Linked DNA regions of Homo sapiens. The protein of the gene in region 3 interacts with the protein of the main gene of each other region in a pairwise test. Each region holds a gene or a part of one and is shown on either strand. Other genes may lie near its edges. The genes, in order: GABPB1, ATXN1, PDLIM5, KRT40, ZYX, JPH3 and CCDC136.

Region 1 (3,500 bases), on a different chromosome or scaffold from region 3:
AACTAATAATTTCATATCAGGAATTTTTTATGTGATATTTCATATTTTAGTAAACTCTTTGAAATATTTTTGTAGCATGGTGCTGATGTCAATGCAAAGGACATGTTAAAGATGACAGCTCTCCATTGGGCCACAGAACACAATCATCAAGAGGTGGTGGAACTTTTAATCAAATATGGTGCTGATGTACACACGCAAAGTAAATTTTGTAAAACTGCATTTGATATTTCAATAGACAATGGAAATGAAGATTTAGCAGAGATATTACAGGTAACTTTTGGCTTTTAATTTAAGAAAATAAAGAAAAAGAAGCCTTATCAGTAGAGGGATCTCTTATATTGTGCATGATTTAAACTATTGTTTGTAGCCTTTCATTTTGGACTTAGTTATTTTGGATAGGCCTTTTTCTCTTTCACTTCCTCTTTGTTTATTACTATTCATTTTCTTGATTATAAGGCCAGTCTCTTCATTAACATTAGATAAGGTGATTACTTTCTGTTTTTTAAGTTTCTGAATTTCCCTTTAGACCTTTTTTTTTTTTTTTTTTTTTTTTTTGAGCCAGAGTCTTGATCTGTCCCCCAGGCTGGAGTGTAGTGGCACGATCTTGGCTCACTGCAACTTCTGCCTCCTGGGTTCAAGCAATTCTCCTGCCCCAGCCTCTCAAATAGCTGGGACTACAGGTGCATGCTGCCATGCCTGGCTAATTTTTTGTGTTTTAAGTAGAGATGGTGTTTCATCATGTTGCCCAGGCTGGTGTTGAACTCTTGAGCTCAGGCGATCTGCCTGCCTCGGCCTCCCAAAGTGCTGGGATTACAGGCGTGAGCCACTGCGCCTGGCCCTAGACATTTTATTCTATTATTTTTGTTGCATTTTGATACTATATGGTTTTTCCAAGTCTACTATAAATGACTTTATAAAAATTAAAAAACATATATATTAGCAACCATAATATCATTCCTTGAGTGAGTGATGCAGTTTGATTTGTTTCTTTTATCTTTCAGCATCCTCAAAAATATCTGTTGTTTTTGGCTTTTGGGAAGATTTTTCTAGTAACCAACATTACTTCTCTTATTTTCAGCCAGATGACATAATATAAATTATCTTCTTTAATTACTGCCTCTTCTTGCCTGTTTGTTCCCAATCCCAGCAGTAGAACTCTTCTTTTCTAAGACTATCTGACTCCTTTGAGCTTCCACTAGTTACTTAAAAGATGTTTTATGTTCAGGAAAATGAATTCTACCATGCCTCTTTTCATTCCTTTTACTCCTAAGAGTGCAGTTTGGGGGTTGGAGTTGAAGATGGGGAACAATTAATTGAGAAGGACATGCTTTATATATGTGGTATTATGTATTGCCAAACGTAGAAGAAATAATTAAATTCCTATAGCTACAGGGCAGAAATATTTTTTGTTTGTTTTGTTTTTGTTTTTGTTTTTTGAGATGGGGGTCTCACTATGTTGCCCATGCTGGTCTTGAACTCCTGGGCTTAACCACTCCTTCTGCCTCAGCCCCCTGAATAGCTGGGATTACAGGCACCTGCCACCTCAGCCAGCTTAATGTCCAGTTGTTCTGTGTTCTGTTAAAAACCTTTTAGATACTCGTTTCTCCTCTCCCAGGATTTTGCTGCTTTACCTAAGAGGGGGACTTGGGATATAAATATATACCCATGATGTGCCCCTACACTGTCAGTGGACCTTAGACAAATATTTCCACTTGTACTATGTGATTCTTCTTAGAGAATACTCCTTTATATGTGTTTGTATTATATGGAGAATTTGTGCTATATGTTCTGGTTATAATTCTGAAAACACTGTGGTCATTTTTTCCCTAGATTGCTATGCAGAACCAAATCAACACAAACCCAGAGAGTCCTGACACTGTGACAATACATGCTGCAACACCACAGTTTATCATTGGACCTGGAGGGGTGGTGAACCTAACAGGTCTGGTATCTTCAGAAAATTCATCCAAGGCAACAGGTATTGAGATGCATATAGGATAGGCTTTGGGATTTTATGCTTTAGTAGGTATTCATCCTTGTAAGAAAGGACGGTTGGAGAATGAGGGTAAGATTCTATCAGCCACCTTTGTTTTCTTTGGTATAACTGGCAAAAAGATTTTTATGAGACAAAACAATCTGAAGAAAGGTGATATTACAAAATTTACTGCAGTATTACCTTTCAAAAGCTAATGCTATCCAAGCTTTGTTTAAGAGTCAGTAAGATAAATAGAATATCAGAAATATGCATTGGATTAAGCTCCTTAGAAATTCAAATCTATTTTCTTTTTTCTTACAGATGAAACGGGTGTATCTGCTGTTCAGTTTGGAAACTCTTCTACATCAGTATTAGCTACATTAGCTGCCTTAGCTGAAGCATCTGCTCCATTGTCCAATTCTTCAGAAACTCCAGGTTAGAAAAACGAGTCTAATGTGTACATTAAAATTGCAGATTCAGGCTGGGTGCCGTGGCTCACACCTGTAATCCTAGCACTTTGGGAGGGCGAGGCGGGTGGATTGCCTGAGCTCAGGAGTTTGAGACCAGCCTGGACAACATAGTGAAACTCTGTTTCTACTAAAAATACAGAAAATTAGCCAGGCGTGGTGGCACATGGCCTGTAATCCCAGCTACTCGGGAGGCTGAGGCAGGAGGATTGCTTGAACCCGGGAGGTGAAGGCTGCAGTGAGCTGAGTTTGTGCCACTGCACTCCAGCCTGGGTGATAGAGCAAGACTCTGTCTCAAAAAAAAAAAAAAAAAAAAAAAACCAAAAACAGTTGCAGATTCAAATATTTACAAAGGCCAGGAAGACAATAAAAGGCTAAAGTGGGCAGGATTGAGATTACACCCGGCTGAAGAATGGGGCAAGGGCAGGGAGGCATCTGTGACTCAACTCTAGCTGATTATAGTCATCAGTCCAGTATTCCCAAATTCTGTTTTTTAATAGGAAGCTGTGAATCTGGATTTTAAAAGAACATTAAATCTTGGTAACTAATTGAAAAACAAAACTTGTGTGGCTCACAGAAAAAAATGTCCCTGTCTCTAATTTGGCTCTTGATTTACTAGTTTGTGACTTTTTGTTTAAACAACTCACTTTGGCTGGGCATGGTAGCTCACACCTGTAATCCTAACACTTTGAGAGGCCAAGATAGGTGGATTGCTTGAGCCCAGAACCCTGGGCAACATGGTGAAACCCTATCTCTACCAAAAAATATAAAAATTAGTCAGGTGTGGTGGTCCACTCCTGTGGTCCCAGCTGCTCAGGAGGCTGAGGTCAGAGGATCGCTTGAACCTGGGAGGCAGAGGTTGCCATGAGCCAAGATCATGCCACTGCATTCCAGCCTAGGCGACTGAATGAGACCCTGCCTCAAAAAAAAAACCCAAAACCAAAAAACACTTTTTTCATAAATTTTAATTTTTAGCAGCTCTACTAGAGTGTTATAAAATCTTAATGACTGATAGAACTAGGAAATAGTATACAGAAACCACTGTTAAAGGGTTACCT
Region 2 (3,500 bases), on a different chromosome or scaffold from region 3:
CGTGCAGTACGCTCACCTGCCGCACACCTTCCAGTTCATTGGGTCCTCCCAATACAGTGGAACCTATGCCAGCTTCATCCCATCACAGCTGATCCCCCCAACCGCCAACCCCGTCACCAGTGCAGTGGCCTCGGCCGCAGGGGCCACCACTCCATCCCAGCGCTCCCAGCTGGAGGCCTATTCCACTCTGCTGGCCAACATGGGCAGTCTGAGCCAGACGCCGGGACACAAGGCTGAGCAGCAGCAGCAGCAGCAGCAGCAGCAGCAGCAGCAGCATCAGCATCAGCAGCAGCAGCAGCAGCAGCAGCAGCAGCAGCAGCAGCAGCACCTCAGCAGGGCTCCGGGGCTCATCACCCCGGGGTCCCCCCCACCAGCCCAGCAGAACCAGTACGTCCACATTTCCAGTTCTCCGCAGAACACCGGCCGCACCGCCTCTCCTCCGGCCATCCCCGTCCACCTCCACCCCCACCAGACGATGATCCCACACACGCTCACCCTGGGGCCCCCCTCCCAGGTCGTCATGCAATACGCCGACTCCGGCAGCCACTTTGTCCCTCGGGAGGCCACCAAGAAAGCTGAGAGCAGCCGGCTGCAGCAGGCCATCCAGGCCAAGGAGGTCCTGAACGGTGAGATGGAGAAGAGCCGGCGGTACGGGGCCCCGTCCTCAGCCGACCTGGGCCTGGGCAAGGCAGGCGGCAAGTCGGTTCCTCACCCGTACGAGTCCAGGCACGTGGTGGTCCACCCGAGCCCCTCAGACTACAGCAGTCGTGATCCTTCGGGGGTCCGGGCCTCTGTGATGGTCCTGCCCAACAGCAACACGCCCGCAGCTGACCTGGAGGTGCAACAGGCCACTCATCGTGAAGCCTCCCCTTCTACCCTCAACGACAAAAGTGGCCTGCATTTAGGGAAGCCTGGCCACCGGTCCTACGCGCTCTCACCCCACACGGTCATTCAGACCACACACAGTGCTTCAGAGCCACTCCCGGTGGGACTGCCAGCCACGGCCTTCTACGCAGGGACTCAACCCCCTGTCATCGGCTACCTGAGCGGCCAGCAGCAAGCAATCACCTACGCCGGCAGCCTGCCCCAGCACCTGGTGATCCCCGGCACACAGCCCCTGCTCATCCCGGTCGGCAGCACTGACATGGAAGCGTCGGGGGCAGCCCCGGCCATAGTCACGTCATCCCCCCAGTTTGCTGCAGTGCCTCACACGTTCGTCACCACCGCCCTTCCCAAGAGCGAGAACTTCAACCCTGAGGCCCTGGTCACCCAGGCCGCCTACCCAGCCATGGTGCAGGCCCAGATCCACCTGCCTGTGGTGCAGTCCGTGGCCTCCCCGGCGGCGGCTCCCCCTACGCTGCCTCCCTACTTCATGAAAGGCTCCATCATCCAGTTGGCCAACGGGGAGCTAAAGAAGGTGGAAGACTTAAAAACAGAAGATTTCATCCAGAGTGCAGAGATAAGCAACGACCTGAAGATCGACTCCAGCACCGTAGAGAGGATTGAAGACAGCCATAGCCCGGGCGTGGCCGTGATACAGTTCGCCGTCGGGGAGCACCGAGCCCAGGTAACGTTAGCCAGGGTGGCACAGGGATGGGACACCACACCGTGATGCCATCATCATCTCCTGGCAAGACGAATTGCTTCTATGAGGCAGGATTAAGGGTTCTCGGGTACACCTAGACCTTAGACTCGGCCTTTCCCAACTGCGTTCTCTAGAAAAAATAAGCCCCATTTCCCCGTGATCTCTGCTGTGTGTAATGAATTAACCTCCATGCATGGAGAGTGGGGCTAGTTATGGAGTCCTTGAGACAATCCAGAAACTCACCACTCTAGTTATTTTTTGAATTCTGTGATTAAGATGAGGAACCCTGATTAGGAAACGCTGCTGGACTTCAGGTCCTTCTAGTGGTCATTCGGCACTTTTTCTTACCAGGAAAAGACAGAGGATGCCGTTGGAGTGAGGGGATTAGATGCTAAAGCAATCATATCCCATTGCAACATCCATGTTTTAAAATATGTCTTATTAGCTGGGTACAGTGGTATATGCCTTCGGTCCCAGCTACTCCAGAGACTGAGGCAGGAGGATCACTTGAGCCCAGGAGTTCGAGGCTGTAGTGAGCTATGGCTGAACCTGTGACTATCACTGCACTCAAGCCTGGGCAACATAGCAAGGCCCGGTCTCCAACATATATATAATGTCTTATTATTTAGGTATGATAAGGCCAACAGATAGATCAGCAGACAACTCTCTTTGACGAGATAATTTTTATACTCTCTGATCCCAAGAGGAAAGGGCACTCTACACCAAGAGGTGTAGAACACCGTAAAGTGGGGGGCACCTGGGGAAGCCCCAGGTGGGTCAGGAGGTGGAGGGAGTGAGGGGAAATGTGGCAAACAACAGCCTTTATTGTGGTTTCATGGGAGGCAGGGTAAACGGGTTTAGGATTGGTTAGAGTGGATAATTCCAGTGTGCTCTGGGGTGTAGGGGCTGTCCTTAGTTGTCTGGCTGCTGGTGCTGGGGTGATCAATACAGGTGGAAGGGCTGGGCACAGTGGCTCACACCTGTAATCCCAGCACTTTGGGAGGCTGAGGCGGGTGGATCACCAGAGGTCAGGAGTTCGAGACCGGCCTGGCCAACATGGTGAAACCCTGTCTCTACTAAAAATACAAAAATTAGCCGGGCATGGTGGTGTGTGCCTGTAATCCCAGCTACTCCAGAGGCTGAGGTAGGAGAATTGCATGAACCCGGGAGGTGGGGATTGCAGTGAGCCGAGATCAGGCCACTGCACTCCAGCCTTGGACACACAGCAAGACTCTGTCTCAGACAAAAAAAAAAAAACAGATGGAAGGCAGCCCTAAGTGTGATGGACCAATATAGGAGGCTGCTGGGGAGTGGGCTCTGGACTGGTTAGTTTGCATATGAAAGTCAGGCTCCTAGGAATTAGCTCTGGACTGGTTGGTTTGCATATAAAAGTCAGGCCTCTAGGAATTAGCTAATCCTAGGAGAGACTATACCTCTGGGATCCACAAGACACTAAAATATCAAAGCATCAGAAAATAAAAGCGTGGTTAATACAATCTGAGAAGTCAGGGCTGTCCCAGGTGACCTGCTGGGCTTGGGGTAAAGTCAGCTGTAGCCAAGATGAGTCACTGGAAGTATGGTTAACGCTCTTAATTTCCACAGGCTCCTTCAATCTACCCTTTTCCAGGTTCTTAGATCGATTACATGCATTTATTCCACAGCCCATTTCTTTCACTGCCCAAGTTGCTGGGAGTCCAGCAGGTTCAGCCTGCAGCTGAGAGCTTTCCTGGCTATCGAGCGTACTTTCTACAAGTGTTTCCATCTAGGATTTGAAAACATTCAAATGGGACAGAGCCTCCTTCCAGCTTGAGTTGAAAATAGTCATGAAATAGCTGCTATTTGGGACATTCAGATAAAATAAAACAAGAAAAAAAAGATAAACTAATTAATGGTTTGAATTGTTTTGGGCATTTTT
Region 3 (3,500 bases):
TTTAATGTTTCAAGTCTCTAAATAGTTTTCTTTTTAAAGTTTATAATATTATTATAAAAGATAATTGAGAGACTGCCAGACCTTGCTAAGAATTTCATGTGCATTATTAAAGTAAGTGAATCATTAAATTACATGTTTTAAGCATGCTTTCAGGTTTTAATTGTTTCTTGATACTATTAATTAAAGAACCTGATGACCAGTAATATCCCAGTAATTTTACATAATTAAGGCAGAAAAAGTATAACCAAAGAACTAATTAAGATGAGAGTAAGTTAAAAATTTATAACATTAACAATCTTACCACAATATAAATTAGTTATTAAACGCAAACCTTTATTAGGCAATGTTACTAGGCATATTTAAACCACACAAGGGGTTAAAAATAACTACAATGAAAGGCCAAGAGCCTAGCAGCCCGATTGAGCCAACATTCCCTTCTCTCCTTCCCCTCCCCTTCCAATCCTCTCCAGTCCAGAATGAATTGCATGCCCCACTGCACAAGGCCCAAAAAGGTCACAGTAGATGGCAGAGACTTTTGTAAGAGAACAGAAATAACTCAGCAGCTTTGTTACCATAGTCTCTTTTAATCAGTATGTTCAAAATCCTTTAATTAGCACTCTGTCTACACAAGGAAAGCATTTCTTCTGTGCCAGGGGAGGGCACATATGTATGTACACAGTGTTCTGTTGTATCAGCATCACAACATGGAGCTAGTACCTCAAACTGTCTGCCAGGAAACTGAAGCACATGAAACTTTTTTAAAGACACGGTACCACAAAATTCGCAAACATACTCTATTTGCATTTCTATTACCACACAACAAAGTGATAATTAAGTTTGGCTCATTTAGGTGTCAATTTGTTTCTGAACTTTTTTTCAGCAAAAAAGTAAGCATTTAAACTAATAACTTTCTTTAGATAATTAAAGTAGAATATTTAAAATATAAAATGCTAACAAAACGTAAAAACCAATAATACTCAAAGATTGCTCCTGTTCCCATAATAGATCATCAGTAGAAGAAATAAAATACCAACTCACTCAAACAGGAATAAATCACATGACACATTTTCACATGGATGCTTTACATTTAAAATTTCATCTAACCATGAAAGGTGTTAAAACTTGCAGGCTGGATTACATATATATACTTCCTTATAAAATCTAATTAACTGAAATCAAGGCAGAAATTGATGATAAATTAAAGATAACTTTAAAAAAATCCACAGCCAAGAAACAAAGGAGACTCCGTTAGTAAAATGGGATTTGCAGTATTTTAATAAGGATATTTAGGCGTTACAAACTTATTTTTAATCTTTCAAAATGAAGTTGGATACACATACAAGATGCAGAGTATGTGTGTGTATATATATTTATACATACACATATATTATTAACCAAAATGACAATCTTCTAAATATCTGATTAAAGAAACAACTAACTAAATTTAAGGTAAAGTGAATTATTAAAGAGGCAGCACAGCATAACTGTTGGAAAGCCAGCTCTTCCATACAGTCATGTGAGCGCACAGCACAGTTATATACAATGGGAATAATATCACTATTTTGCATGTTGGTATGATAATTAAATGAGATGATGCATTCACAGCACTTGATAAATATCCAAGTTTGTTGGTAAGACTGGCACAAAAATAGTATTTTCATGCGTTGCACAAAAGTGTAAATTGGCACAACCTTTCAAAATGACGTAGATACATATATTCACATATATATGTATGTACTTATATTTGGTATTCACTGTACCACTGTAACAGTAATATGGAAATGCCACAAATACTCTTCAGTAGGGGATTGGTTAAATGTCACTTTCCTTATAAAATAAAATTATACAATTGTTTTAAAAAAACACACATACCTCCTTATATATTAATAGAGAATGATCTCAGGGTAAATTGTTGCAAAAAAAAGCAAAGTATAAAACAGTGTGGGCCAGGCACGGTGGCTCACGCCTGTAATCTTAGCACTTTGGGAGGCCGAGGTGGGCAGATCACCTGAGGTCGGGAGTTCAAGACCAGCCTGACCAACATAGGGAAACTTGGTCTCTACTAAAAATACAAAATTAGCCAGGCGTGGTGGCACATGCCTGTAATCCCAGCTACTCGGGAGGCTGAGGCAGGAGAATCGCTTGAACTCGGGAGATGGAGGTTGTGGTGAGCCGAGATTGCGCCACTGCACTCCAGCCTGGGCAACAAGAACAAAACTCTGTCTCAAAAAAAACTGTGTGTATAATATGCCACCATTTGAGTAAAAGAAGATGGAAATTCATATTTATTTGAATATGCAAAAACAAACCTTTTAGAAACTTATATAATAGTAATAATTACCTACTGGTGATGAAAGTGAAACAGTACCTGACATATAGTCAAGTCTCAATAAATAGAAGCTTTAATTACTCCTCTCATCAGTGCTATCATCATCATCATGAAAACATATCCTTAAAATATATACACAGAATACATTCAAACTAAATCCATAATGAGGTAAAAAGCCAAATCTCAATTATTCATAGGCTATCTAGTTGGAGCTCCAAGCCCTTCATTTCCTCTTCAAGGGTAAGTAGCTTTTGGCCATCTTACTGTTGGCTATCACCTCCACCAGAAAGTGAGCTGAGGAAATAATTCCGAAACAATCATTTTATTCAATTTTGATCAACAGTTTTTAACAAACAGCTTTTGGAACTGAAAGAGATTATTAAAATCCCATAGCACAACCTTTGAAAATTATATATGAAAGAACGAAGATTCAGAGAATTCCCCAAATTAGGGACAGTTCAAAAATGTACAGTCTGTTCCTAGTTAAATGCTTTTTCCATTTTATTATTGATAACATGGGGGAAAACGAAAAGAAGTTAAATTGAAGTCAGTTATCCTTGCTAAATCTACTCCCCTCATCCTTTATTATAGATAATCAAATTTGCCAAGATCAAATCCCAGGAGCAATGATAATAAGTAGAGTACAGGTCAACAGAGAATTAAACAACTCAGCCCGAGGACTAAGCACTGAATGAACATCTATAATAAAATTTGTAAAGTTTACTTACACTAGAGATTGTCAGAGGCATGTTGAAATCCTTACCGCCCTGCAGCCGGAAACCCCAAGGAGCTGGGCCAACCAGTGACACACTGTAGTTGCTCATGGTTCTAATGGCTCAAAGTCCAATGACAGAAAATGAAATATGCTGTGAAAGAAAATCAGATGATTAGCAAAAATGTTTACTTGAAACCCTAGAACATAAATTATGTTTAGTATTTTGTTTGAGGGGGGTGAGAGGATATAGAAGATAAGTCTTAATTAAGTTCTTCATTAATTTCAGTTTAAGAAAAGCAATCTGTGAGCTAATATAAATTTTCTACACTCATGGCAATTTCCATGGTCTAAAAATTCCATATCAGAATACATTTCTAGACACTTAGTATGTTTCACAACTTGCTTCAATCCAATTTTGTGGCTTCTTGCATGCAAAGTTTAACTCAAAGTACTTTA
Region 4 (4,112 bases), on a different chromosome or scaffold from region 3:
AGACGAAGAAACTGAGGCCCTTCTAAGTGGTGAAAAGAGATTCAGCCCAGGCAATCTGAATCAAAATCTCACACTTTTACCCACTGCTCCAAAAAACAGAAGTAGAATGCCATTGGATGTCAAATGGATTTTTCCCCACCATTCTGTGACATTCTTTACACCATCCCACTTTCAGGAAGTCAACTTGCTTCGTGAACAGCTTGGCGACCGCCTCAGTGTGGAGCTGGACACTGCCCCCACCCTTGACCTCAACAGGGTCCTGGATGAGATGCGCTGTCAGTGTGAAACGGTGCTTGCCAACAATCGCAGAGAAGCTGAAGAATGGTTGGCTGTTCAGGTCAGTACCCAGATTGAAAAAATGTCAGGCTTACAGACTTCTGCCTTTTTTGAATTCTCTAATGGTGTCTGTGTTTCAGACAGAAGAGCTGAATCAGCAGCAACTGTCCAGCGCGGAGCAGCTGCAGGGCTGCCAGATGGAGATCTTGGAACTGAAACGCACAGCCAGTGCTCTGGAAATTGAGCTCCAAGCACAGCAAAGCCTGGTGCGTGAGGCAAAGGCAGTGTCCGTTGTGTCACTGATAAGTCAGGCCCTGAGATGTTAAGCCCTCTTCCATATCCGAGGATCACATTTCCTTGCCTTTCCCGAGTACTGCCGTTTACCCAGCTATTAATAGAAGCAGAAGTGACAGGTCCACAGCTTGTCCTCTAAGATGCCTTACCTTCACTCCTGGGCTTGAGTCTGATGCTGCAGCAGCCTCCAGAGACAGGGAGGGAGAAGCAGAGCTGGAGAGAAACCTCCGGGCCATGGTCGCTTAAGCATTCTGGCAGGTTTTAATTCTCATTTGATTCAGGCCAGTTTTCCAGGCTCACTGTTATATCTAAAACAAAGAATCATTTTCAAACATTTCATCCTACAGTTTCCCAGGATCTACACTTCAACCTTATCCTTCACTGCACCACCCCCCACTCAAGCAACAGGAACACCATGCGTTCAAGATGACATGAACCAGTTCTGGTCAAGCACCACTGTGTGCATGTCATTAGGCCCTGCGGAGAACACCTAGAAGAACAATAGCTGAGCATTCATCCTGTGAGAGGCACTATGCTGATTTAAGGCTCACAGTAACTTTACCGGATAGATACCTTTATCCCATGACACAGATAAGGAAAACTGAGACTCAGATTAAGTAACTTGCAAAGGATGCAATTCTAAGAGGCAAACTTGGAAGCTGAGTTCAGCCAGTTGAATCCCAGAGTCTCTTCTCTCTCTCTTTTTAAATTTATTTTTATTGATATATAATATGCGTAAATTTTTTTTACGTAGATGTGATATTTTGTTACATGCATAGAATGTGTAATGATCAAGTCAGGATATTTAGAGCATCCATCACCTCAAGTATTTATCATTTCTATGTGTTGGGAGCATTTCAAGTCCTCCCATCTAGCTATTTTGAAATGCACAGTGTATTGTTGTTAACTGTAGTCACACTTCTCTGCTGTCCAACATGAAAACATATTCTTTCTGTCTAACTGTATGTTTGCACCCATTAACCAACCTCTCTTCATCCCCTTACCACACATATGCCAGTCCCAGCCTCTGGTATCCAGAGCCTCTTCTCTTAATAGCACTATACTACCCCTCCCTGCCAAGAGCCCAAACTCAATCTTTCCTCTCATATGTTGTGGATAGTCCTTAAGCTTCACAAATATGTCATGTATTGCTGTAGTCATAGTGGTGGTAGTGATAGTTGACACGTAGAACAGTGGCAGTATGGCTGGCACTGTTCTAAATGCTTTACGCACATTAACTCTTTTTTTTTTTTTTTGGACGGAGTCTCCCTCTGTCGCCCAGGCTGGAGTGCAATGGCATGATCTTGACTTACTGCAAGCTTTGCCTCCCGGGTTCACACCATTCTCCTGAGTAGCTGGGACTACAGGCGTCCACCACCGTACCCAGCTAATTTTTTATATTTTTAGTAGAGACGGGGTTTCACCGTGTTAGCCAGGATGGTCTCGATCTTCTGACCTTGTGATCCGCCCGCCTCGGCCTCCCAAAGTGCTGGGATTACAGGCCTGAGCCACCGCGCCCAGCCCGCATATTAACTCTTAATCTTCACAACCGTCTAATGAAACAGATACTTTGTATTCTCCACTATACAGAGAATAAAACTGAGACTCACAGAAGCTAAATAATTTGCCAGTGGTCACATAGCTAGAAAAGGGTAAGCAGGAATTTGAAAGTAGGCACTCTGGCCCGAGAGACTGCACTTCATGGTCCTTTGGACAATGTTTCCTCCCGCAGACAGAATCTCTGGAATGCACCGTGGCAGAAACCGAGGCCCAGTACAGCTCCCAGCTGGCCCAAATTCAGTGTCTGATCGATAACCTGGAGAACCAGCTGGCCGAGATCCGCTGCGACCTGGAGCGACAGAACCAGGAGTACCAGGTGCTCCTGGACGTGAAGGCCCGGCTGGAGGGTGAGATCAACACGTACTGGGGCCTGCTGGACAGCGAGGACAGCAGGCAAGTTCCACAGTTACTCATGAAATCCCCCAGAGTCACAAAGAGGCTGATGTAAAAGAATCCTGTTTCCCCAAAGTCTGGACAAGTTCAGACCTCCCCAGTGTGTTTAGGGATCTTCTTAAAAAAGTGCTGAAAAGTGGCTGAGGTTAAGAACATGACACTAGAGATATTTTTAAAATATTCTAAAGGCAGATTAATTATTAGTGTAACATTTCATGCTGGCATCTCCCTTTGTTCCTGTTTTCCACTAAAGGAAAATCAGGAATAGGCCTAAGATAACATTTGCAAAATCAAGAAAAAATATAAAATACTATTCAACTGCCACTGCTACAGTGAACATGAAGTGGCAATTCTGGGTGCAGAGAAGAAACAGGCTTCAGTCAATGCTATTGTGCAGAGTTTTTTTCAGAACATAATTTGTAGGGCAAATTTTGACACGGTTTTTCTGAGTTGCCATTTTATCAACATTCCCTTGTTAATCTTGGTTGAAAATCGATTTTTCCCCAGGCTTTCCTGTAGCCCATGTTCGACCACATGCACCTCGAGCAACACTTGTGAGCCATGCTCAGCCTATGTCATCTGCACTGTTGAAAACTGCTGCTTGTGAATGTTAAGGACAGCAGGTAGAGGAATCAAAGCCAGCAGCATCCTAGAAAGGAGATGGGGCTTCAACCAGGGACATCCAAACCGGAAGCACAAATCCAGGAGGCTCTCATATCCTGGAATTGCCCTCCAGGTATCCTCAGTCTTTCTGCTTTACTATTTCCTCTCCTTCCGGCTTATTTGTGGTATACTGGAAGCCCATAAAGCATTCTTGCTCATCTCCAAATAAAACGTGTTTTATTCCTTTAGCGTGGTAAATATAGCTCTATGGCTGATTACTGTTGATAGAATATTCATTTTATGGCAAGGAAATCATCTAAACCCATAACCATAGTTTCAATGTACATAAACCCAGGCTGAAAATATTTTTTAACTCCTCAAATACAAATAAATTAATGAACCCATGAGAAATGTCATATATCTTAGAAAATAGTTGTGTGTATCTTTCTGAGGAAAAATATTAGGAATAAAATATGATAAAATGTATTTTTTGATTATAAAAGTACTAGATTCTCTTTTTTTAAATTTGGCTCATTAAAAGGGAAAAGGTCACTTATGATTTCATCTTCCAAACAGCCATAGTCAATATTTTGGGGTACTTTCTTCCAGTTTTCTTTCTTATAATAGATTTTTCCACACAGCTATAATCATACTAACATATGCACACACTTGTGTAAACTTTCTTTCATTTATGTCATCTAAGCATTTTTAATTCTAATAAAAACATAAGATTGTATTGTAGCCATCACTTTTTTTATTTTTTATTTTTTTTTTGAGACAGAGTCTTGCTGTGTCACCCAGGCTGGAGTGTAGTCACACTATCTGGGCTCACTGCAACCTCTGCCTCCTGGGTTCAAGCGATTCTCCTGCCTCAGCCTCCCAAGTAGCTGGGACTACAGGTGTCTGCCACCACACCAGGCTAATTTTTTTTTTTTTTTAGTAGAGACAGGGTTTCACCGTGTTAGCCAGGATGGTCTCAATCTCTT
Region 5 (3,500 bases), on a different chromosome or scaffold from region 3:
ATGTTTGGAGAACAGAAAGTGGAAGGTTCCTGTAGGAAAATGATAGAGCTATACTTGGAGAGGCAAGCGGGGCTGGAGGGTGTAGGAGGTGAAGTGGCTCACCCAAGGAGCTCTTGAGCACTGGAGAGGCATTCATGATTTTTGAGTAGGTGTGGGGTGGGTCAGGAGGGCTGGTGAAAGCAGTGTTTTTGGAAGCTTTCTGGAAAGTTTCACCAGCAGAGATGTGTATTCGAGGGAGGTCAGTGATGGGTGTGAATTCACTCTTGGGCAATAGTAATGTTAGCTGCAATGAAAATTAAACCGTGCATGTGAGAGCTGTGTGCTAGAGCTGTTGGGAAGGCACAGCCTCCAGGACTTAGCAAGGGATGAGCAATTGGAAGACAAGGGTGAGGGGAAGAGGGAAAAAAAAGTCTCCAGCACGATTTGGAGATGGGGTGTGGGCGGATGGCAGGATTGCTGACAAAATAGAGAAGTCCAGAAGGGGAAATGGTTTGGACGGGAAGAGGAGGGGTCCAGCTGTCAACGTTTTGAGCAACAGGTCCCAGGAGGACTTTCAGCTGGGGCCGTCATTCAGCTAGAAATCCAGGGCTAGGTTTCAGGAGAGGGCCAGAGATGTCTAGCATGGTAGTGGGGCACAGTGACACTGTGACGCTGGAGGGTCAGGGTCGGAGCGGAGGAGCTTCCCAGGGAGTGCAGACAGCGGGGACCAGGAGGTGCGGGAAGAAGAGTCAGGAGGAGAGTCAGGGTGCACTTGGAGAAGAGAGCTGAGCTCCTCAGTGGGGTATTTGAGGGAGTGAGGACTCAAGGCTAGAGATTAGACTGTTGGGAAATCATCAGCGGTCTTGGGATGGCCTGTTTGTGCCCTGTGGTGGGAACACAATGTGAGGAGTTGAGGAGAGAGTGGGTGGTGAGAAGTGGGGCTGCTGGTGTAGCCTGGTCTTAAAGGACTAAGGGAAGGACTGTGTGTCAGTGGTGTGTGTGTGTGTATATATACACATATGTGAATATATGAGTGGCGTGTGTGTGTGTGTTAGTGTGTGGGTGTGGGTATGGTGTATGTGAGTGTATGTGCATGTGTGAGCATGAATGTATGAGTGGCGTGTGATGTGTGTAGTGTGATTGTGTGAAAGTATGTGTATATGAGTACATGTGTGCATGTGTGAGTGAAGGTGTGTGCATGTGTGAGTGTGGCTGTGATGTGTATGGTGTGTGATTGCACAAGTGAAGGTGCACATACATACTTTCTTACAAATACACACAAGTGGCGTATGTGTATATATGTGAGTGGTGTGTGTGAGCGTGTGGTGTGGTATATCTTTTTTTTTTTTTTTTTTTTTTTTTTGGAGACGGAGTGCAGGCTGTCGCCCATGCTTACTACAACCTCCGCCCCCCTGGCTCAAACGATTCTCCTGTCTCAGCCTCCCAAGTAGCTGGGATTACAGGCACGTTCCACCACACCTGGCTAATTTTTGTATTTTTTAGTAGAGATGGGGTTTCACCATGTTGGCTAGGCTGGTCTCGAACTCCTGACCTCAAGTGATCTGCCTGCCTCAGCCTCCCAAAGTGTTGGGATTACAGGTGTGAGCCACCGCGCCTGGCCTGGTGTGGTATTATCTGAATGTGAGTGGTGTGTGTGTGTGTGGTATGGTATATGTGTGAGTGTGTGTGTGTGGTGTGGTATATGTGTGAGTGTATGTGAGTGGTGTATGTGTGTGGTCTGGTATGTGTGTGTGCATGTGAGTGGTATGTGGGTATGTGTGAGGGTGTGTGTGTTTGAGTCTGTGGTGTAGCATATGTGGTTTTTGCAAGTTAGGGGAGAAGGGCTCAGGTACGTGTGTAACCCGGGGAAGCAGGTGATGGAGGGTGAGTGTTGTGGGAGAGCAGGGGCAGGCTGCTTCGGTCCCTGGAGGAGATCTTGGTGATGTCTCCTCCCCCAGAGGCATACCAGACAGCAAGGACAGAGTGGTTGCAGCGTGGATAGGAAGGACGATGAGGGAGCTTAAGCTGGCTGGCTTCCATGTCCTCAACCATGTGGGAGGTGAGGTCACGGTGCGAGCAAAGGGACGAAGCAGGTGGGGGCTCAGGAGATGGAGAGGTCTGGAACGGCTGCTGTGGGGAAGGCTGGGCTGGAGGTCGCGCGGGTGCTGCAGTGTTGTGAGCTCACGCTGCAGTGTTCAGTGATCTCTCCACTGCTTTCTGCAGCTTGGAAGCAGAAACAGGAAGAGGGTGGTGGTGTGACTTGGGGTTGGAGACTGGGCCGGATAGCTGCGGGTGGCTGCAGGTGCCCGGAGGGACAGTGAACCCTGTAGGAGTTAGATGGTCATGGGACCAGGCTGGGGCATGGTGGACAAAGTCCAGGGGTGGGTTGCGGGTGGGGGCAACTAAGGCTTTTCTGGGTTCATGTAGTAGGTGTGGATGGGGAAGAGGAGAGGCAGATAATGGCTGGCAAGAGACTTGGAGGTAAATCTGAGGTCAAGGATGTCCCATGATGGATGATGACTGAGATGGACGGAAGTTTGGTTTGAAGCGGTGGCATTGGTGCAGGCTGGCAGAGGGGGCAGTTCTGGATAGAGTGTCCTGATGAATGGGGATACCCATGGGAGGTGATGCAGATGAGGATTCTGTGCTTCTGAAGGAGGAGCCAGGCATTTAGAATGGCACTGGAGAGCAAGGACTGACTGAGCCCCTTCACTGTGTCCCCAAGAGGCCAGGAAGGGAAGATTGGAGGAGACAAAGTTGAAGTGAGTGTTCCAGGGAACGAGTCAGTTAAGAGATGGTAGGATCTTAAGGGAAGATGGCTAAGATCTTAAGGGAAAATGGCTAAGATCTGGAGAGTTGGACTTATATGGACGCATGCTTCACTGGGCAGAAAGGACGCAACTCTGGGTACAGATGGGGGTCGGGGTGAGGGGCAGTGAAGCCAGGGCTGAGGGGAGAGGGGCTATGGGAGGAGGTAGCAGGGGGGCTTTGGAGGTTCCAGGTGTTATGGGAATGAAGGCATCTGCAGGTAGCACACTCAGTGATGGGGCCACAGTCCTGGGTAGGCTTTTCCAGACATAGAAAAGACCCACCCAGTGCACTTGCTCCTGTGGGCGTGTCTCCCGGCAGTGCTGATGCAGGTCAGACAGCCCTTCCCGGAGTTCTCAGGGTTACCTCTCAGGGTTACTGGCAGCGCTGTCCTTAACATCCACCCCCCACTCCAGTCCCCGGGATCCCCTAAATGGGAAGGTTGGGCTGGCCTAGGGGGTGGCCTTTGGACCTTCTCTGAGGCTGCTGGGGAGGGACCTGAGTGAGGTAGTTCAGAGGCCCCTCACTCGAGGGACAGGGTCTCTGTGTGGGGGTGGGGCTGGGTTCTTGCAGACAGCTCAGTGGGTTTAACCTGCAATTCCTGCCTGTGTTGTATCCTCACGCTGACAGGGGCTGCTCAGCAGCAGGCAGGCCGGGTAGGTGTGTGTGCGCGTGTGTGCACGCCATTGCGTGCCCCTGTCCCATGGGGGCGA
Region 6 (3,500 bases), on a different chromosome or scaffold from region 3:
AAGAGGAGGAGACAGGGGCGGATGGAGTGATGTCAGAGATCACTGGAGACTCCGTGGCTGGAGGGTGGCTGGAGCGGAGACCCTGGAAGGAAGCAGCACTCCCGACACCTGGATCACGGCTTCTAACTTCCAGAAACACGAGTTTGCCTTTTGGGTGTTTCTACCCCCACCCCCGCGTGGTGCTTTACTGCTCCAGTCCCAAGAAATGGGTGCAGGCTCCCCCACCCTGAGAATTCCAGTTAAGACTCTGGAGTCGGAGATGCTTCCTGGAGGGCTCAGTCCTGGAGTCAGAGGAGATGCTTCCTGGAGGGCTCAGTCCTGGAGTCAGAGATACTTCCTGGAGGGCTCAGTTCTGGATTCAGAGGAGATGCTTCCCAGAGGGCTCAGTCCTGGAGTCAGAGATGCTTCCTGGAGGGCTCAGTTCTGGATTCAGAGGAGATGCTTCCCAGAGGGCTCAGTCCTGGAGTCAGAGATGCTTCCTGGAGGGCTCAATCCTGGAGTCAGAGATGTTTCCCGGAGGGCTCAGTCCTGGAGTCAGAGATGCTTCCTCGAGGGCTCAGTCCTGGAGTCAGAGATGCTTCCTGGAGGGCTCAGTCCTGGACTTGGAGATACTTCCTGGAGGGCTCAGTCCTGGATTCAGAGGAGATGCTTCCCAGAGGGCTCAGTCCTGGAGTCAGAGATGCTTCCTGGAGGGCTCAGTCCTGGATTCAGAGGAGATGCTTCCTGGAGGGCTCAGGTCCCTGCAGGAGGGGCCTTGGGCTGACCTTTTAAGTCCTGAAGCTGCCTCCTCCGACAGTTCTTGTCTTCATGATACAGATGCGGGCCCCTGTGGGGGCCGCTGTGATGGAGAGACGGGGCCGCTGCTGCCTCACTGGTGGGAGTCCAGTCCTCGAGGGTCTGGCCAAGTTGGCCTCACCTCCTGCTGCTGCACCTTGGAGCCTGGCTCACTCTGAGCACCTCGGTCCGATCTGCCACCTCTTTGGGTGGCGCCCCGGAGCCTTCTCTGAGCAGCATCTTCCCTGGAGGGGGCGTTGGGACCGTGTGTTTTTTACAAGCGCTGGGACTGGCATGAGATTTGATCCAAGCATTTCTTGTTTCCGCCTTGGATGCATTCAGGATCAGTGTTCCCAGACCAGGCACCCCGGGGCCTTCTCGGCTGCTGGGGAGGGGTGGGGCTGGGGGAAGCTGTCCAGGTCCTTCCTCAGTCGTCCTCACAGCCAGGAGCTGAGGTCACCAATGACAGATGACAGAACAGAGCCTCCAAGAGGGGAACAGGGTTGCCAGAGCGCTCAGGCAGGATGTGGTGGAATCAGGATTTAAAACGAGGCTCTGAAGCCTGGGCCATGCCGGCTTCTAGAGAAGCAAACCATCCAGCGCTTCGGCTGCAGAGAGTGGCTGGCGCCAGCCTCTTGCTGCCTGTCTGGGAGGTCCCTGGCAGCCTCCCAGCCCGAGAACTCTGACCGTCAGGGTTCTGCCCAAGGCCACGTGAAGGCAGGACCATGAAGGAGCCTGGCCATGCGGTGTCCAGTGCCCAGGCCACTTCCGGTGCCATCCGCCCCCGCCCCAGAGGCAGGAGGACTGAGCGTCGGAGGCTGCAGGACGCAGGTGGCTTGAAGGCACAGGAAGAAGCTGCAGGGGCTTCACGAGGACCCGCCCTGCATCCTCACCACGAGGCTTCTAGGAACGTTACCTGCTCAGCAGCTCATTCTAGCTGAGGGTGCCCTCCTGCTGGTGGTGCTGGGAGTCGGGGCCCCTCTAGCGTGGGGTCTCCTGGGCCAGCCAGGCCTGATCTCGGCAGCAGTGGGTGGACGACCTGGTGGGAAAGGCCGGGGCGCCATCGGGGGATGGGGGGGGCCTTGATCCCAGCCTGCTAGGTCCATAGCGTCTAAGGCACAGGAATGCCAGCCCCTTGGAAGTCCCATCCTGGCCAAGGAGGAGGTACGATGTGGGTGATCCGTGGGCATGATTGGGGGCCTCTGATGGGGCCAGGGCTGCCCTCCACACAGGACCCTCACGGGGAGAGAGGTGGTGGGGCTGGGCGTCAGGTGGGTACGTGGATGTCAGCACAGTTCTACACAGACCTTCTCTGGCCCATTCCCTGCTCTGCTCGGGGGACACCCAACCAGCCCAGCCCTGTTTCTGGGGAGTGACCACAGAGAAGCAGTCATTGAGACCTCAGAGTGGCCCACCCACACCCCCGTGTGACAGGAACTCAGACTTGGGAGGGCTGGCCACCCACCCAGAGCTACCCAGCTGTGCCCCAAGCCCCAGGCCAGGGCCATGGCCTCGCTCTGCTCAGCACTGCCTCTTAGACCAGCAAGGAGGAGGACACAGCAGCCCAGCCTGGTGGCGTCGCAGCGTGCCCCGAATCTGCTTGCTAACGTCTCTTTACAAACGGAGGGACTATCTGGTGCCACACCGAGGGTAGCCATGTCTCCCAGACCTTCTCCTGCCAAAAGGTCAGACTGGGGTACAGGCGTCTCCCAGACCTTCTCCTGCCAAAAGGTCAGACTGGGGTACAGGCCAGGAGAATGTCCGAGCGTGAGAGACTCTAAGATGGGCAGTGGCTCTTGGTGTCCGAGCTGGTCTCATGAGGTGGCCGCCCCGGGTAGAGCTCTGAGACCTCCGTCCTCAGAGGGAAGACTCCCCAAATTCCCACAGAGCTCTGCACCATTTTGGCTCGGGCAGGACGGGGATGCTGGGGGCGGGGGTCCCACTGTTCTGTGCTGAGCCTAGGACGCTACTTGAGATGAACGTGTAACTGTTCCCCGGAGGGTAAGAAGCGCCGCGTTCTTGGGTTTCTCCTAATGGAATAAAGTCGGGCATGGCTCCCGTGTCCCTGCGTTGGCAGGAAATGAGATCCCAGTCAATGTTCTTGGTTCTCACCTCCTGCTGGGGGCTCACGGAGCTCCGGAGAAGTCTCGGGGCTAGTCCTACAATGCTGCCCCTCCCTATCCAGGCCTCCGGGTGGGGGCTGATGGGGACTGAGCCACCGGCAGACGACAGGGACTCTGCTGGCTGCAGAGCTGGCCCCTGGGTCCTGTGGTGACCTCCCCTTCCGGGGAGCCCCGCCCTAGGACTTGAAGCCCCAGCAGCCTCGAAAGGTGGGGAGGGAAGTCGGCTCCTGGGCTCTCACGCTGGCCCCGGCACTGGCTGTTTCTCAGCAAGACTGTCCCAGCACCCTGAGACACAGTCCCAGGCGGGTAGGGGTGTTGGCGGCCTTGCTGTGACAGCTCGGCCTCCCCAGACAGGTGGTCAGCTAGGGTGAGGGGCTTCCTCTTACCCTCAGGACAGGCGAGTCAGGGTTGGTGGGACCTGAGTCCACACCCCAGCGTCCTCACGCACTTTCCGAGCCTTGGGTCTCCCTTGTAGCCTGGGAGCTGCTGTCCGCCCTTCCTGTGGTGCCTGGGCCTAGCCAGTCTCCCTCCAAGTGTCTGTGGGGTGGGGACCACGGGGGTCCCACAGAGGGCTTTGGGAGCCACGGTCCCCACTCCCCTCCC
Region 7 (3,500 bases), on a different chromosome or scaffold from region 3:
ATTTAAAGAGAGAATTAGGAAAGCAAAAATGGGAAAAATTAGGGTGAAATTAAGTCCTTATTTGTAAGGAGTGTAGTTGCATTAAAAAACAACTGGGGTTAATGAGAATAACAGGAGCTAAGAGTTCCCAACAGGGTGGGAATATGGTGTATAAAGGAAAGGGCCGGAGAAGAGGAAGGGGGAAATGAGAAAGGGGCATCGATAGCATTCCCCATCAAACTGCCCCCAGAAAGGAATGGTGGAAGTTTAGAGCAAGGCCAGCCACCAGTCTAGAGCAACCTGCTCTGAAGGAGCAGCCTGCAGGGGATCCCCAATCGGTATCTAAACAGCCAGAATGCATTGTGGCTTGGGGTGACCAGTCCAAGGTGACTGCACAGGGAGAGGATCACAAGAGGCAGGAGAGCGCAGAAGTGCTCTGTTAGCCACCCAAGAAGCTTACCTTACAGAGTAACCACCCCCTCCACACCCGCCCCCACCCACAGTGTGACACACTGCTGTCCAGACTGACAGAATTGCAGGAAAAGTACAAGGCCAGCCAGAAGGAGATGGGGCAGCTGCAGATGGAGCAGTGTGAGCTCCTGGAGGATCAGAGGAGGATGCAGGAGGAGCAGGGCCAGCTGCAGGAAGAGCTGCACAGGCTCACACTGCCACTGCCAAAGAGTGGCCTCTTACTCAAGGTAACTCTGCCACAGGCAGCTGCTAACTGCGGGGAAGCTGCTCTGAGAAGCTTCCCTGTGTGACTAGGGAAAAATAAAAGGGTGGGGATTGAACTTTTTCTCTTACCAACCACTCCTTACTTTCTCACCACTCTCCCCAAACCAAAAAGCTCCATAGAGCCAATTAGAGTTTTTCTTATAAGGGCTTTAAATCTTAAAATACCTTTTATACTCAGGAATCTGTGCAGCAGTTTATATTTAGGTATTTAGTCCATCTGGAGAAAATGCACCTGAAGCCACTTTGTAAACTACAAAATATATCCCAACACAAGAGACCACTGCCACTTTTAGCAGGTCTCCATAGAAGGGCTCCCCCGTCCCCAGATGGGCTCTGTGAAGTCAACCCTGAGATTCTTCAGGGAATTGTTCACAACGGGGATGAGGCACCAAGGAGGCATCAGACTTCCTGTGTGACCACCACCATCCCTTGCCTCCTTCCTTCTACTCCGCCTCAGAGTCAGGAGCTACTCACCAAGTTAGAAGACCTGTGTGAGCTGCAGCTGCTCTACCAAGGCATGCAGGAGGAACAGAAGAAGCTGATACAGAACCAAGACTGTGTATTAAAAGAACAATTAGAGATCCACGAAGAGCTGCGACGTTTCAAAGAGTCTCATTTCCAGGAAGTGTTGGAGAATCCCGATGATTCCAAATTGGCTAAGTCCTCCAAATGTAATCGAAACAAGGTAACCATAGCAAGAGGTAGGGAGACAGTTCTCCTGAGCACAACAGCATGGCAGAGAGAGTGGGCACCGCCGAAGGGTCAGAGTTGGGAAGGCGTGTTTGGCCAGGGGTAAGGATAAGGCAAAAGCCCTGCCTTTCACCAGCTGTGACCACTCACAGGCTCCATTAAGAGGTGGCTTTTAGATACGGCCTGAGGACCTCACCTAGATGCCATTATCCTTTATCACACTGATATTCACAGTGCCCAGTTGAAGCACTATGAGCACTCAGGGCAGAGCTGGGATGACCAGAAGTCTGTCATCAGATCATTCGACTCATTCCCAGTAAGATGTATAATATCAGTTTGGTGTTTGTTTGGATTCCTTTGGACTGACTCTAAATGTCATCTTTTTCTTGAGTGGAAAAGTACACTTCTCAGTTATCAAAATCTATCACCTTTGGTGTTCTCTATGAGGCAAATTTGGGGCCTTTCATTTCCAAGAGAAGAATTCCTAGCATATGGGGTTCTTAGTACTGACCACACTATCTTCATTGGAACTTTGGTGGCAGTAACAGAGCAAGGTCACAGGGGTTAGACCAGAAAATTGATGCCTCTCAAGTACCAGCAAGAGGTCATTCAGATGAGGTGACACAGGTGGAGATCACCATACAATTCTCTTCAGGGTTGGGGGATAAAGTTGTTCTGAGGTCTCAGCGTGGGCAAGGAGGGGCAGGTAGACAGTTTCGGTTTAGGCCAAATCTATTCATTCAGATCTTATTCTGAACAAGGAGAACCAGGGAGTAGCAGAAGTCAACACTGTGAGGCTGGATCATATTCCAGGGGCATCAGATGTCCAGGCTGGAGGCCTGGGTAACACAGCTGGGAACCAGGTATAAAATATTTCCTTAACTGATCAGATCTCATCCTGGACATCAGCAGCCAAGAAGCCAGGCCCAACATGCCCAGAGGCCAGATTCAGAATTGGGGCAGGAGATACAGGAACTAATAGTAAGACTTTGATTCCAATTCTTCATATTGCCGCATTCAAGGCCGGGGCTGATTTTAGAACTAGGGGTGGGCGAGGGGACTGAGCCTGAAGGTCAGGATAACAGGTATACCTGACTGAGAAGAGGGTGTGGTAGGGAGCCAGGGTGTTCTGGAAACCCACTCGGCACTGCTCCAAGGAGACAGGGATGTACCAAAGTGCAGAAACCAGCCGAAATGGGAGCCCGGAAATCATGGAGTATCTGCCCTGGGGAGATTTTCCCAAATGAGCAAGAAACTGATACATGCCAGTTACCTATAGGCTAAGTCAGAGACATAGGCCGGGGTGAGGTGGAAATGTAGGTGTGCCATTCTCTAAGGTGTGCTCTCAGACATCTGTACCAGGAGAGGTGCAGCTGGAAGGACTGAAGTGTCAGAGTAATGATACTGTCTCCCCACCCCTGCCCCCAGCAATCCAAGCTGCTCATGGAGCAGATGCAGGCCCTGCAGGTGATGTATGACGCCGGTCAGGCGAAGCAGGAGCTCTTGCAGCAAGAGCAAGGGAGGCTCCTAGAGGAGCGGAAGAGGCTGCAGGCAGACTTGCAGCTCTGCCTGGAAGAAATGCAGCTGCTTCAAGTCCAGTCCCCTTCTATAAAAATGAGCCTTGAGTCCTACGGGAAGAGCTATGGTAGCATGGTCCCCAGCAATGAGAACTGTCGCAAGACTTATGATACCACTGTGGATGACAATGAGAGCTATTACAAGAGTTACACCAGCACCCAGACCAGCAGCAAGAGCTTTCTCAAGAGCTATGACAGCAGCACCAGTGCCAGTGAGGCCTATGGGAAGAGTTACTGCACTACCAGCAACAGCAGCATTACCTATAAGAAGAGTTACGGCAGCACCAGTAGCTCTGACACCTGCCAGAAGAGTTTTGTCAGCAGCTGCACTGACGAGGAACCTGCTGAGCCTGAAGACATGGAGGTAATGGTTGCCAGGTGACAGGTCAGGCAGGGGACGATGGACTCTTGTCTTTTTAAGAGATACATCGCCAGGGGAAGGGGCAAGAAGTGTGGGAATGGGGTCAGAACTGACCTGGGGAACTATTGGAAGTAAGCGAAGCCCTCTACCCATGGCAG

Evidence for each region.
Region 1: the proteins of PDLIM5 (region 3) and GABPB1 interact in binary tests that used the Homo sapiens proteins (3 or more experiments, as listed by UniProt).
Region 2: the proteins of PDLIM5 (region 3) and ATXN1 interact in binary tests that used the Homo sapiens proteins (3 or more experiments, as listed by UniProt).
Region 4: the proteins of PDLIM5 (region 3) and KRT40 interact in binary tests that used the Homo sapiens proteins (3 or more experiments, as listed by UniProt).
Region 5: the proteins of PDLIM5 (region 3) and ZYX interact in binary tests that used the Homo sapiens proteins (3 or more experiments, as listed by UniProt).
Region 6: the proteins of PDLIM5 (region 3) and JPH3 interact in binary tests that used the Homo sapiens proteins (3 or more experiments, as listed by UniProt).
Region 7: the proteins of PDLIM5 (region 3) and CCDC136 interact in binary tests that used the Homo sapiens proteins (3 or more experiments, as listed by UniProt).

Annotation. Positions count from the first base shown.
Region 1 is NC_000015.10:50,299,699-50,303,198, reverse strand, and holds part of GABPB1 (GA-binding protein subunit beta-1 isoform beta 2), read left to right. Parts: intron 1-75; coding exon 76-270; intron 271-1,830; coding exon 1,831-1,942; coding exon of another isoform or gene 1,943-1,978; intron 1,979-2,296; coding exon 2,297-2,410; intron 2,411-3,500.
Region 2 is NC_000006.12:16,324,461-16,327,960, reverse strand, and holds part of ATXN1 (ataxin-1), read left to right. Parts: coding exon 1-1,567; intron 1,568-3,500. UniProt on the Homo sapiens protein: Chromatin-binding factor that repress Notch signaling in the absence of Notch intracellular domain by acting as a CBF1 corepressor. Binds to the HEY promoter and might assist, along with NCOR2, RBPJ-mediated repression. Binds RNA in vitro.
Region 3 is NC_000004.12:94,454,942-94,458,441, reverse strand, and holds part of PDLIM5 (PDZ and LIM domain protein 5), read right to left. Parts: intron 3,196-3,500; 5' UTR 3,154-3,195; coding exon 3,058-3,153; intron 2,624-3,057; exon of another isoform or gene 2,199-2,623; coding exon of another isoform or gene 1,884-2,198; exon of another isoform or gene 1,258-1,883; intron 1-1,257. UniProt on the Homo sapiens protein: May play an important role in the heart development by scaffolding PKC to the Z-disk region. May play a role in the regulation of cardiomyocyte expansion. Isoforms lacking the LIM domains may negatively modulate the scaffolding activity of isoform 1.
Region 4 is NC_000017.11:40,977,215-40,981,326, reverse strand, and holds the end of KRT40 (keratin, type I cytoskeletal 40), read left to right. Parts: exon of another isoform or gene 1-2; coding exon of another isoform or gene 3-26; exon of another isoform or gene 27-175; coding exon 176-337; exon of another isoform or gene 338-416; coding exon 417-542; exon of another isoform or gene 543-2,302; coding exon 2,303-2,523; intron 2,524-3,030; coding exon 3,031-3,130; 3' UTR 3,131-3,612; downstream 3,613-4,112. UniProt on the Homo sapiens protein: May play a role in late hair differentiation.
Region 5 is NC_000007.14:143,384,345-143,387,844, forward strand, and holds part of ZYX (zyxin), read left to right. Parts: exon of another isoform or gene 1-1,041; intron 1,042-3,500. UniProt on the Homo sapiens protein: Adhesion plaque protein. Binds alpha-actinin and the CRP protein. Important for targeting TES and ENA/VASP family members to focal adhesions and for the formation of actin-rich structures.
Region 6 is NC_000016.10:87,686,008-87,689,507, forward strand, and holds part of JPH3 (junctophilin-3), read left to right. Parts: intron 1-3,500. UniProt on the Homo sapiens protein: Junctophilins contribute to the formation of junctional membrane complexes (JMCs) which link the plasma membrane with the endoplasmic or sarcoplasmic reticulum in excitable cells.
Region 7 is NC_000007.14:128,808,968-128,812,467, forward strand, and holds part of CCDC136 (coiled-coil domain-containing protein 136), read left to right. Parts: intron 1-482; coding exon 483-677; intron 678-1,171; coding exon 1,172-1,399; intron 1,400-2,294; coding exon of another isoform or gene 2,295-2,385; intron 2,386-2,832; coding exon 2,833-3,345; intron 3,346-3,500. UniProt on the Homo sapiens protein: May play a role in acrosome formation in spermatogenesis and in fertilization.